4 separate regions of the Homo sapiens genome follow, and all the other regions are reported to be linked to region 3. Evidence: microRNA targets listed by miRTarBase, many of them from high-throughput screens and not tested one by one. Region 3 holds a microRNA gene; each other region holds the end of a gene's coding sequence.
The links. Region 3 holds the annotated microRNA hsa-miR-633 (CUAAUAGUAUCUACCACAAUAAA, at 2,155-2,177, shown strand). A microRNA usually pairs through its seed, bases 2 to 8, with sites in the 3' UTR of a target mRNA and lowers its output. Matches are read on the target gene's strand: a 7mer-m8 pairs with bases 2 to 8, a 7mer-A1 pairs with bases 2 to 7 and ends in A, and an 8mer does both.

Region 1: the mRNA of PREPL is a reported target of hsa-miR-633. Seed matches in the 3' UTR shown: 7mer-A1 at 2,888-2,894.
Region 2: miRTarBase lists DDIT3 as a target of hsa-miR-633. Seed matches in the 3' UTR shown: 7mer-A1 at 507-513.
Region 4: miRTarBase lists TOP1MT as a target of hsa-miR-633. Seed matches in the 3' UTR shown: 8mer at 362-369.

What each region holds. Positions count from the first base shown.
Region 1 is chr2:44,318,582-44,321,672 of GRCh38, reverse strand. It overlaps PREPL (prolyl endopeptidase like), which reads left to right. Exons shown (of 14, transcript NM_001171613.2): 14 at 228-3,091. The coding sequence ends at 317. It overlaps SLC3A1 (solute carrier family 3 member 1), which reads right to left. Exons shown (of 10, transcript NM_000341.4): 10 at 179-1,474. The coding sequence ends at 1,034. Among named protein-coding and RNA genes, the nearest start is that of PREPL, 41 kb to the left of the region's middle.
Region 2 is chr12:57,514,047-57,517,120 of GRCh38, reverse strand. DDIT3 (DNA damage inducible transcript 3) reads left to right here. Exons shown (of 4, transcript NM_004083.6): 4 at 1-528. The coding sequence ends at 312. It overlaps MARS1 (methionyl-tRNA synthetase 1), which reads right to left. Exons shown (of 21, transcript NM_004990.4): 16 at 2,270-2,401; 17 at 2,063-2,167; 18 at 1,785-1,971; 19 at 1,130-1,201; 20 at 784-876; 21 at 469-686. The coding sequence ends at 540. Among named protein-coding and RNA genes, the nearest start is that of MIR6758, 2.9 kb to the right of the region's middle.
Region 3 is chr17:62,942,121-62,945,211 of GRCh38, forward strand. MIR633 (microRNA 633) reads left to right here and starts at 2,095; the gene lies at 2,095-2,192.
Region 4 is chr8:143,306,664-143,309,754 of GRCh38, reverse strand. It overlaps TOP1MT (DNA topoisomerase I mitochondrial), which reads left to right. Exons shown (of 14, transcript NM_052963.3): 14 at 212-431. The coding sequence ends at 314. Among named protein-coding and RNA genes, the nearest start is that of ZNF696, 17 kb to the right of the region's middle. RefSeq lists enhancers at 1,448-1,948, 1,949-2,449.

The sequences.
Region 1 (3,091 bases), not on the chromosome of region 3:
AATCAAGAGAAATGTCTCTCTCTTGTACTTGATACGTGAGCTCTGTTAAAGAAAATAATTTAATCTTAATTGTTGGAAGCCTTCTGCCTCTCTCTCGAATGAAAGTATTCTTGCCATAAATTGCTGACTTCACGGTTAGGTAAAGATGGATAGATAAAGAGAAGCTTAAACAGTGGCATTTTACTACAAAGGCCTTCTATTTAATTTTTTTAATGTGTTTCTTTTAGATTACAGCCCAAATTAAATTCCTGTACGAGGAACTTGGACTTGACAGCACCAGTGTTTTCGAGGATCTTAAGAAATACCTGAAATTCTGAAACACTGCATTCAACTGGGAATTGGAAACACACTGAAATATTTCATAGTCTTACTTCCAATTGAGTTAGCAAAAAAAAAATTAATAACTTGAGACTTTTAAGTTATTAATTTTTTAAAATGTGCTTCTCCATCTAAATTTTGCTTAGTCTACATCTCACTTGCTTATACTATTCTCTCCATTGATGCACATGCCCATTAACCTAGGAAAGTAATTTTCAAATCATGCTCCTTAGAAGGATGTGGAGTAGAGGGAAGGGAAGGATTGGTGATAGCAGAGCTCCAGGCCTCCCTTCCAGTCAGAACAGTTGAGCAGTTTACAAATTAGTGTCCTGCCTCTTTGCTAGCAAATGCTTTTAGACACTGTGGCAGTGAGTCATCCTCTAATTTCTATGACTGCATTTTAAGGGAAAAGATAAAATTCTTCCCCTTAAAATTCGTTAAAGTTTTTGAATAATCTGGGGTCCTAATGTGTTCTGGTCATCCCTGATTGATGCTATCTGAATAAAGTTATAAGCTCCTATAAGCCATAATTTACTTTTAAACATTTTATTTTTTTCAAAACATTTGAGAACCTTTCTTAAAGCAGTTACATTCAAGCTACAGAAATATCGAAGAATTAATGATTGTTCACCAAGCAGCATGCTGTACATGAAGCTATTACAAATGCTTACAATCCCACTGAAATGCCAGTGTCTTCATCTCTTCATAAAGGTGCCTAACACGAGGTATACAGTATGTTCAGTACACTGGAATAGCATGCTCGATTGGAAACAAAGCATCTATCTCTGAAAGCTGTTTGGCGATGAAGGAGATTCTTCGTGTTGTGTTCAAAGATGAGTCCCTCTCCCTTGTCCAGAAAAATGCCACTTGTATCAACTTTACTGCCTTTGTCGGCAGAATTGGTACTTAACCTTATTCTCATTTTAGCGGGAAGGCCCGAAATCATATTATGTAGATTTAACAGTGTTGATTCTCCAAAATTCAGAACCACGATAAAGATTCTGTCGATGCCATCCAGCTCTCTTGTGTACACAACATAGTGGCTGTCATTCCTCAAATGGCAAAACCAGCCCCTGTTGAGGAGTAGCTCATTGGCATGAAGTAGACTTAAATCTTGATATAACTTCAAAGCCGATCTGGGCTGAGTCTTTTGGACCTATTTTTTTAAAAAAGTATTTACGTAAGTGTTTGATTCTAAGAATTGTTTGTAAGTATTTTTAATATATTGTAAGGAGTTATTTACCCAAAACACTTGCTCCAATTTTGCCCCTTATAATTGCCAAATTGTAAGCATCAATAAGTAGGTAAGAACAATTTATATAAAAACTGATAGAAATGACAAATTCGGGGTTTCGGCTTGTCTGGGAGTCAATAAGTACGCACAGTGCTCTGCTACATTGTAGAGTTTCTGTAGAGATCAAATTTGACTCCACTTTAGGAGTCCCAAAGCAAATGTCCATGTCTAAGATGAATATTTAACTTGCATAGTCATTCTGTGCTATATTGTAACTGCCAGATGGCCAGAAAGAAGGCAACAGTGGACTCAGACTTCTGAGGAATTTGGGTTTGTTCCCCTTTGTAGACTAATGTGTAGGTTGCTGTTGTGCGAAGATCGTGTAACTTTAGCAGACATGTATTTCTTGCACAGCTAATAGAAGACAAAGTTGAAAAAAAGGATGCAAAATAAAAAGCTGCCTAAGGTGAAAGTTAGAAATTGTAGACTTTTTTTTACCATAATAGTATGTGTTCATTAAAGATGATTTGGGTTTATTTTACAGCTATATAAAACATAATTTGATGATGTACTTCTAACCTTTCAAGCATTTTCTGTTATTGACTATATAATATAGCCTCCATAAATGTTTTTAATGACAATATTCTGTTGAACGGTTGTACCATACTCAGCCATGCCCTTTCATTTTGACGATAGTGTTTCTAATATTTTGTATTTTTATTCCCCTCCCCCCATTTTTGTATTACTTAAGATAGATTATCAGAAAGACAGTTACTTTGTCAAAGAGTATGGGCACTTGATACATAATGCCAAATTATTCTTCATAAGAGCTGTTGCCAAATCAGTGATAATGTTCATTTAATTGTATTCTTGCCAGCCATGTTTACTGGGGTGATAGTTGTTATTGTGGTTGTTATTGTTCTTTAGGGGTAGGTTCCCAATATGTGGTCTTTAAATAATTATCTAATGGTGTTTAAAAAGATGTTTATTCTGTTTGTCAGGTACAAAGATATTTATGATACATGTATGACTTGTCTAAGTTATTAACATTTTCTCTAGCCTTAGGTAATGCATGAAAGCACATGTTTCAGTGCCACTCACATAAGAAGTGCCCGGTAAGTGTTAGCTATTATTGTCTACTTGAGTTACTACTTTCTAAAAGTATGTTGAAGTCTTTTTCTGTAATTGCAGATTTGTTGATTTTGCATTTGAGTATTTTCTATATTTTGAAGCTGTTAGATGCGTAGTCATGATTTTTGGTGGAATGTTTTATCAATTTTTGAAAATTGCCTTTGTCTCATATAATGCTTTTCATATTGAACTATATTTTGTCTGCTATTAAATACTTCCAAGCCTGATTTTTGTAATTTTATTTTTTATTCAATTACAAGAATACATACTATAAAAAGGTTTTCTTCAACACCTTTCCATAGCTTCACAGTTCCCCTCAGAGACAGGCACTATATGTTCTTTTGTTTTTAATGTATCATATGTTTGCATAGGCACAGAATGTATCATTTCATATGTTTATATATTTTT
Region 2 (3,074 bases), not on the chromosome of region 3:
GAGCCAGAACCAGCAGAGGTCACAAGCACCTCCCAGAGCCCTCACTCTCCAGATTCCAGTCAGAGCTCCCTGGCTCAGGAGGAAGAGGAGGAAGACCAAGGGAGAACCAGGAAACGGAAACAGAGTGGTCATTCCCCAGCCCGGGCTGGAAAGCAGCGCATGAAGGAGAAAGAACAGGAGAATGAAAGGAAAGTGGCACAGCTAGCTGAAGAGAATGAACGGCTCAAGCAGGAAATCGAGCGCCTGACCAGGGAAGTAGAGGCGACTCGCCGAGCTCTGATTGACCGAATGGTGAATCTGCACCAAGCATGAACAATTGGGAGCATCAGTCCCCCACTTGGGCCACACTACCCACCTTTCCCAGAAGTGGCTACTGACTACCCTCTCACTAGTGCCAATGATGTGACCCTCAATCCCACATACGCAGGGGGAAGGCTTGGAGTAGACAAAAGGAAAGGTCTCAGCTTGTATATAGAGATTGTACATTTATTTATTACTGTCCCTATCTATTAAAGTGACTTTCTATGAGCCAAGGTCTTTTACTTTTTCTTCTTGCCTTTAGGGGCTTCAGGGGGTTTCCCCTCAGCTACAGCCAACTGTTTCTTTAGATCCAAGAGTTTCGCCACCTCCGCAGCAACCTCGTTCTTGTCTGCCTTTTGTGCTTTCAGTTCTCGGACAATGTTTCCCTAAGATAAAGGGGGGTGGGGAGGTAACAGTGAGGCAAGAAAAAGATCTATTTAGGATTCAGCTTGTCCAGTCTCCCACAGGGCTTAAGCTTCATACTTGTTTTGTCACTTCATCCATCAGCGCTTGTATCTGCTGTGGCTTGGCTGTTGTAACAGTCTCTACAACTGCTGGCTTCGGGGACGTTTTTGCCTGGAGAACAACAAAGTTATCACCAGCAACCATAAATATCCCCTAACCTCCAGTTTTATACAGCATCTCAGAGGGAAAGTGGTTACCTTTAAGTCGAAGGTCTCTTCTAGTTAAGACAGGAAAGAAAAACTGTAAGTGAGGAAGCGGCAGGGCCAAAAGATGGAAAGAGTGATGGGTGAGGACTACTTAGGGAAATTAGGGAAGTGATGCTGTGGCTGTTGTGGAGCGAGGGCACAGCCTTTAGCTTTCTCACCTGGCCCCCTCCAAAGCGCTGCCTTAAACTTTCAATCTGGTCATTTTCCAATTTTTGGAACAAGGGACTGACCTGTAAAAAAAGAGTTCCAGAATCATCTACTGATTGGATACAGACTCTACCATAGACTATACAGATGACCTCTCCAACCCCAATCTCTGATGTGTTTTAGAAAGAACGAGCTTAACACTGAGCTAATATCTGCTGATTTTAGGAAATTAGCTGTAGCTTTCCCTGTGAAACCCCAAATAATTTGTAGGGTCAAAGATTCTTTAAGCTCTCTAAGGATGCTAGGCTGATCCAGAAGTTTAGCAATGTACTTACTTTTTCATTTTGTGTCAAAGAGGAAATGGCTTTCCTGTATTTTCCCTGCCCACTATCTGCTAGCATTATGGAGACTAGGTGATCACAGTGTTTCTTCAAATATCTGTTTACCAGTTAGTTTTGTGTGCCAGGTTCTGGTTTCTGGCATGAAGAACAATGAAGATGTACAGATAATTCCGGACTTGTGAACGACTACCAAGGACTTTATATCAGAAACTTAGGAGTCCCATGACCAAAGTAACACTGGAGAGATGTTAGGTCTTCTCTCACCCACTCCAAAAGCTGCATGGCAAGAGTATCAATTTTAAGAGAGGCTGGCTCTTCCACCTACTGTGCCAATCTGGTGTCCTGCTGGTAAGGTACACAGGAAGTTTGTCAGCAGGATACTGCAGGCTGGAGGTGGGAGCTGCAGCTGGGCCTGGATTGTGGCACTAACCGTGGGCATGTAAGGCTGAAGCATGACAGAGAGCAAGGCAGCTATATTCACTGCCAAGCCAGTCACTGTTCCTGCCCGTTGCCTGAGGAAGAGGAGACATTAGTCAAGACCTCCAGGAGGATACAGCTTACAAGCCACTTTATGCCTTTAGCCAACCCTCCCCGCTTACCTACCTGTCAGCCTCACTGCCTTTAATCCGCTTCCAGGGCTCATTCACCTGAATATATTGGTTGCCATGTCGAGATATGGTGAGGATACTGCGCAAGGCATCCCGGATCCTGGGAAGGGAGGAAGCAGGCCAAGGTGTAATGTCCTACAGAGACCAATACAAGGAGGCTCTCAACATGCCAGCAGAAAAGACAGAGGTGTCAGTTACTTACCGAACCTTCTCAAGTAGCTGGTGATAGTGCTGGAGCTCCAGGGTGACATGGGCCAGCAGGCGCTGATCATCAGGGGTGAGCACCATCTCAGGCACATAGCCCCCAAAGAACTTAGACACAAACATCCCAGCTCTTGGTTGGGAGTAGGAAAGCAGAAGTGGAAAAAAGAGGGGAAGTTATTATCCCGTCTCCTTGTTAGAATTTCACCCAATTTCCACAGCTGTACATTCTCTCAGGATTCCTGCCTGGAACAGGTAACTCCTGGCTCCCTCAAGCTAGTAGACAAGGCCTAATTATTTACTCTTTCTCTCCCCTAAGAATCTGACTCTGCACATAAGAAACCTGATTAAGTTAAACAACTGTACCTCTTATTTTTAAGAAGTCATTACTCGGCCGGGCGCAGTGGCTCACGCCTAAAATCCCAGCACTCTGGGAGGCCGAGGTGGGCAGATCACCTGAGGTCAGAAGTTCAAGACCAGCCTGGCCTGGCCATGGTGAAACCTCGTCTCTACTAAAAATGCAAAAAATTAGCCGGGCGTGGTGGTGTGCACCTGTAATCCCAGCTACTCTGGAGGCTGAGGCAGGAGAATTGCTTGAACCCGGGAGGCGGAGGTTGCAGTGAGCCAAGATCGCGCCACTGCACTCCAGCCTGGGCAACAAGAGAGAAACTCCATCTCAAAAAAAAAAAAAAAAAGTCATTACTCAAAATGACCAAGCTGAGTATGTGTTAACTGCTATCAAACAAACACTCTAGGCAAGTACTTTTTTTTTTTTTTAATTTTTTTTTTTTTTGAGGATTCTCACT
Region 3 (3,091 bases):
TAGAACTTTTAAGTTTCTGTTCTCTTTTTGTTTTTATTTCATGTTGTGTGTCTTGGTTTCTCAAATAGATTGTATATTTAATGTCCTTTCTATGTCTGCTATAGGCTGTCTCTATAGTATATGCTCAATAAATGTTTATGGGATAATTAAATTTGTTGAAGAATAAATTGGTAATGAGTGACTGACCTTGTTGTTTTCTAAGACAGAATCTTCCATCAATTTGTTAATTGTTATTCTGAGATTTGATAAAGGAAACTAATATAAATATAAACAAGAAAAGCTTTAATAAGGTCTTGGATGAAAAATCCATGAAGGACAGATTGGATGTTCATATTTCATCTTTAACCTTTTGAAATTGATTTGATGCCTCTTTAATAAAATCTTTCTTGGTATCCTTGTCAAATGTATAAGGCTGGTGAGAGTATATCACAGGTATGTCATTTATTTCATTCTAATATGAGTCATTGTACTATTCTGGATGTTAAAGAAATAAAAGACACAGCCCTTGAGCTTTCCAGAGAAAAAAATCTAATTGGAGGCTAAAACACACACCCATAAACCAACTTGAGGTAAAATCCAAAGAAACATTTTAGTAACGTCAAGAAATATGGTGTAGTGTAGACTAAAGCTGCAATAGATAAGGAAAAGAAAAAGAAAAAATGATTACACTTGGGATGTGTTTATTATAAGGAAGGCATCTGAAAAAAGGTAAATTTTGGCTTTAAAGATTAGATGGAAATATACAGAAAAGAAGGGGCATAGATTTTTCTAAGCAGTGAGAATTACATGCAATACACGGAGGCAAAATAGTAAGTTATTATACATTCAGGCATCTATAAATAGACAGGCTTGAGGAATCAAGGGAAAGTATGAAGCTAGAGAGAGGTGGAGGAGCAGTTGATAGAAGACATCAAATATGTTTATTTTTGAACTAGTGTGGAATTCTCTTTCTCTTTTCAGTAGAAATAACCTTCACTGTCAACAGCCCAGTCAGACCCCTTAGCTGATATAATGACGATCGCAACTTCCTAGGCTATTATTTGCAATAATTTCTGCCATATGAGTGTAATGGGAAAAATACATTGCAAAGTGAATGACTTTTGAAATGTATTGCATGCTGACATTTGGGAAATTAGATCCTGAACACAATGCATCCTGATTATTGAGGTGCCTTGCCACCATGAAAAGATAAATACAGTCCAACCATTCAAAAAATCTGCATGTTAAATTAATTTAAAGTTCTGTCCTTCGGCAAGGTTCTTCTCAAAACTTTTGGTCACTATTCAGGCAAATAACCATGAGCAGACACTATCCCTGGCCTAGATAGCCTACGTGGGTCTGAGGAGTCCAGAAGTGCCCTCGTTCAAACATAGCTCCATCTTATGAGGAATCCTGCTGTGCTCATTCTCCTATGTACTTGACTGCTCCAGTGCTAGAGGTGCCTGTGCTCAGCTGGCATCCTTTCCATTTCCTGGGAGAAGCACAGCCACGCTCTCTTATGAAGAACAAACAACTCTTCACATCTCCATTCCCACACAGCAAATTCCTCCAGCACCACCAACCCATCTCATCATGAATGTGCATTTGCTTTCCTCTGTAAAGTTTCTGTATTGACGGGCTGCTGGGCTGAGCAACAGTAATTTCAGCAGTCCTGGCTCCACAAGCACAGGTCAGGAATGGGTTTGAAGAAAGCTCTTCTGAAGATATCACAAATTTTGCTGTTTTAAGCCAAGGCCTGCCTTGTTTACTGAACATGTCCAATTTGTGTGCTGAATAGAGCAATATAACGAGAGGAAGGGAAGATGGACAGGGAAATAATGGGACCTCACGTGCAGATTACAAACAGAACCTAGAAATTAACTGAGAATGCTAAAGAGGAAGAGGAATATGAAAGCAATAGTGAAGGGTCAATAATTTCCACATAAATCAGACCAGATGATTATTTTGATCATTAAATTGATTTAACCACAGCTTTATATACAATCAGAGTACATGGCTCTATATATAACAACAGCTCTTGGTTGTAGTCAGAGAGGACTGGGTTTGAGTCCTGGCTTATTGCTTACCTGATTAATGGTTTTGGTTATGCTACTCAACCTCTCTTAGCCTCTGTTTCTTTATTGCGGTAGATACTATTAACCTAAAATGAGAAGGCTAATAGTATCTACCACAATAAAATTGTTGTGAGGATAAAAAAAAATATTAATTAGGATGCAGTATGAAAAAAATAAAAGTTAGCTATCTTTATTTTTGAAATTTATGTAAGTCTAATTTCTCCAAAGTAAATTGGCTTATATTCACCAGGAGGAATGTCTAATTAAAAGAATCTTATTCTGAGTCTTTTGTGGCAGCAGATTATCACTATCTGATCTTTCTTTTACTTCTGTATTTTCATTGAGTTGGCTTACATAAAGCTGCACTTATAAATTTAAATATGCCTCCAATACCACTCGGCAAGTCTTCTTATAGAGAGCTAGATACATATTTAATAAACAGTTAATATAGTTTGCAACTTCCCCAAAGTAAATTAGGTGAAAAATCCCAAATGCTTGAATTTGGGGAAAAATTTACACATATAAATATGAATTTATTTATTTATTTATTTATTTTTAATTTTTTTTTTTTGAGATGGAGTCTTGCTCTGTTGCCCAGGCTGGAGTACAGTGGCGCAATCTCGGCTCACTGCAACCTCCACCTCCCCGGTTCAAGCAATTCTCCTGCTTCAGCCTCCCAAGTAGCTGGGACTACAAGCACATGCCACCATGCCCAGATGATTTTTGTATTTTTAGTAGAGACGGGGTTTCACCATGTTGACCAGGCTGGTCTTGAACTCCTAACCTCATGATCCACCTGTCTTGGCCTCCCAAAGTGCTGGGATTACAGGTGTGAGCCACTGTGCCCGGCCGAATATATTTATTATTGTTAGCCCTTGTTACAATGCTGCCATTTTATAAATCAGGAAACTGCGGCAGAGAGAGGTTAAATAGCTTGATCAAAGTTACATTGATTGCTGGGCACATCCTCTCCATCCTTTTCCAGGTGCCTTATACCTAAGTATTATCCAAAACTACCTCTTCATTTCAGCCTGCAA
Region 4 (3,091 bases), not on the chromosome of region 3:
GGCCACAGCAGGTTGTCTTTGACACCTCGCTGATGCTCCAGGGTGGCGGCATGCGTGGGGTGGGGTTGGCCTAGAGGAGCAGGTCCCAGCTACACCAGGCGGCTCTGGTGTCTCTGCTGCATGGAGGACGCTCGCCCTTGCCGAGCACCCTGACCTGGCCTTCAAGGTGGGTGAGTTGCCTGCTTGCCTGGGCTGATGCTGCCTCCCGCAGGTGCAAGCGGTTCAGGGTGCCAGTGGAGAAGATCTACAGCAAAACACAGCGGGAGAGGTTCGCCTGGGCTCTCGCCATGGCAGGAGAAGACTTTGAATTCTAACGACGAGCCGTGTTGAAACTTCTTTTGTATGTGTGTGTGTTTTTTTCACTATTAAAGCAGTACTGGGGAATTTTGTACAATAAAATGTGTGCAAGTGCTTGTACATCACTAGAAAAAGTCCCCAGGCCGGCCGGGCACGGTGGCTCACACCTGTAATCCCAGCACTTTGGGAGGCTGAGGCGGGCGGATCACAAGGTCAGGAGATCGAGACCATCCTGGCTAACACGGTGAAACCCCATCTCTACTAAAAATACAAAAAACTTAGCCGGGCGTGGTGGCGGGCGCCTGTAGTCCCAGCTACTCGGGAGGCTGAGGCAGGAGAATGGCGTGAACCCGGGAGGCGGAGCTTGCAGTGAGCCGAGATCGTGCCCCTGCACTCCAGCCTGGGCGACAGAGTGAGACTGTCTCAAAAAAAAAAAAAAAAGAAAAAGAAAAAGTCCCTAGGCCAGGCACAGTGGCTCATACCTGTGATCTTGGCATGTTAGAGGCCTGAGGCTGGAGGATTGCTTGAGCAGACATTGAGGCTGCAATGAGCTGTGATTGCGCCCCTGCACTCCAGCCTGGGCAACAGAGCAAGACCCCATCTCAAAGAGAAAGAAAAGTCCCTGACGCCTGCCGTGTCCTTTGAAGCCTCCACCCCGAGCATGGAGTCTGCTGGGCTGTCACATCCAATCAGCGTCCCAGCCTGGACCCCCGGTTCCCGCTCGACAGGGGAGGAGAAACACCTTCGTGTGCTCTGAGGCTGAGGACTTTGGGTGAGGATTCCACATTTGCGCACGCGCCACCCTCTCAGCGGGGCCCGGACTCTTCACCAAGTTCTTTAGCGCCTGGAATTCAGCAAGGGCACAGTTGCTGCCTGGTCACTAAGCCCAGCGGCCCCCGTTCAGTTCTCATCACCTCCACACTCTCCATACGTAGCTCTTAGCTCTTACGATGGCCTTCTGCCTGAGCTTCCCAACCCTGTATCCTCTCAGAGCTGCCTGTCGGCTGCCCTCTGCCACGCGGGATCCTCTGCCGCCCTCTCTGCCACGCGGGACCCTCTGCCGCCCTCTTCTCTGCCACGCGGGACCCTCTGCCGCCCTCTTCTCTGCCACGCAGGACCCTCTGCTGCCCTCTTCTCTGCCACGCGGGACCCTCTGCCACCCTCTCTGCCACGCAGGACCCTCTGCCGCCCTCTTCTCTGCCACACGGGACCCTCTGCTGCCCTCCTCTGCCACGCGGGACCCTCTGCTGCCCTCTTCTCTGCTATGCGGGACCCTCTGCCGCCCTCTTCTCTGCCACGTGGGACCCTCTGCTGCCCTCTTCTCTGCCACGTGGGACCCTCTGCCGCCCTCTCTGCCACACGGGACCCTCTGCCGCCCTCTCCTCTGCCACGTGGGATCCTCTGCTGCCCTCTTCTCTGCCACGTGGGATCCTCTGCCATGCGGGACCCTCTGCCGCCCTCTCCTCTGCCGCCCTCTCCTCTGCCGCCCTCTTCTCTGCCACGCGGGACCCTCTGCCGCCCTCTCCTCTGCCACGCGGGAACCTCTGCCGCCCTCTCCTCTGCCACGCGGGACCCTCTGCCGCCCTCTCCTCTGCCACGCGGGACCCTCTGCCGCCCTCTCCTCTGCCACGCGGGACCCTCTGCCGCCCTCTCTGCCACGCAGGACCCTCTGCCGCCCTCTTCTCTGCCACGCGGGACCCTCTGCTGCCCTCTCCTCTGCCGCCCTCTTCTCTGCCGCGCGGGACCCTCTGCCGCCCTCTCCTCTGCCACGCGGGACCCTCTGCCGCCCTCTCCTCTGCCACGCGGGACCCTCTGCCACCCTCTCTGCCACGCAGGACCCTCTGCCGCCCTCTTCTCTGCCACACGGGACCCTCTGCTGCCCTCTCCTCTGCCACGCGGGACCCTCTGCTGCCCTCTCTGCCACGCGGGACCCTCTGCCGCCCTCTCCTCTGCCACGCGGGACCCTCTGCCGCCCTCTGCTATGCGGGACCCTCTGCTGCCCTCTCTTCTGCCACGCGGGACCCTCTGCCGCCCTCTCTGCCACGCAGGACCCTCTGCTGCCCTCTTCTCTGCCACCCTCTTCTCTGCCACGTGGGACCCTCTGCTGCCCTTTCCTCTGCTACGCAGGGCCCTCTGCCGCCCTCTCTGCCACACGGGACCCTCTGCCGCCCTCTCCTCTGCCACGTGGGATCCTCTGCTGCCCTCTTCTCTGCCACGTGGGATCCTCTGCCACGCGGGACCCTCTGCCGCCCTCTTCTCTGCCACGTGGGACCCTCTGCTGCCCTCTGCCACACGGGACCCTCTGCCGCCCTCTCCTCTGCTACGTGGGATCCTCTGCTGCCCTCTCCTCTGCCACGTGGGATCCTCTGCCATCTGCTCCGCGCTTTGCTTTCGGGGCTGCCTCTGTGGCTGTCTCCCTCACACCGGGGCTCCCGCCAACCCCATGAGGCAGCCCCTGTGTAAGGCTCCTGGTCAGCCAAGAGGACCCCAGCGCCCTGGAGGCTGCACCCCCATCCCTCCTGCTGTGGGGCCCTTGGTGCTCCAGGCCCGAGTCTCTCACACCGCGGCTCACCCGCTGCCCCAAGGGGCTCCGGCAGCAGGTCCAGCTCCTCCCGGGGCCTGTGACAGAACAGTTCCAGCAGGGGGCTCTCACGTCCCCACCTGCTCCCAGAGAGGTGCTTCTGTGCCCAGACATGGAACAGCTCCACAGAAAATGAGGGCACTGGCCGAGCAGGCCCAGACTCCAGAAGGGAAACCACTGAGGGTGCAGGCCCGACCCACATCACCTCGGAGT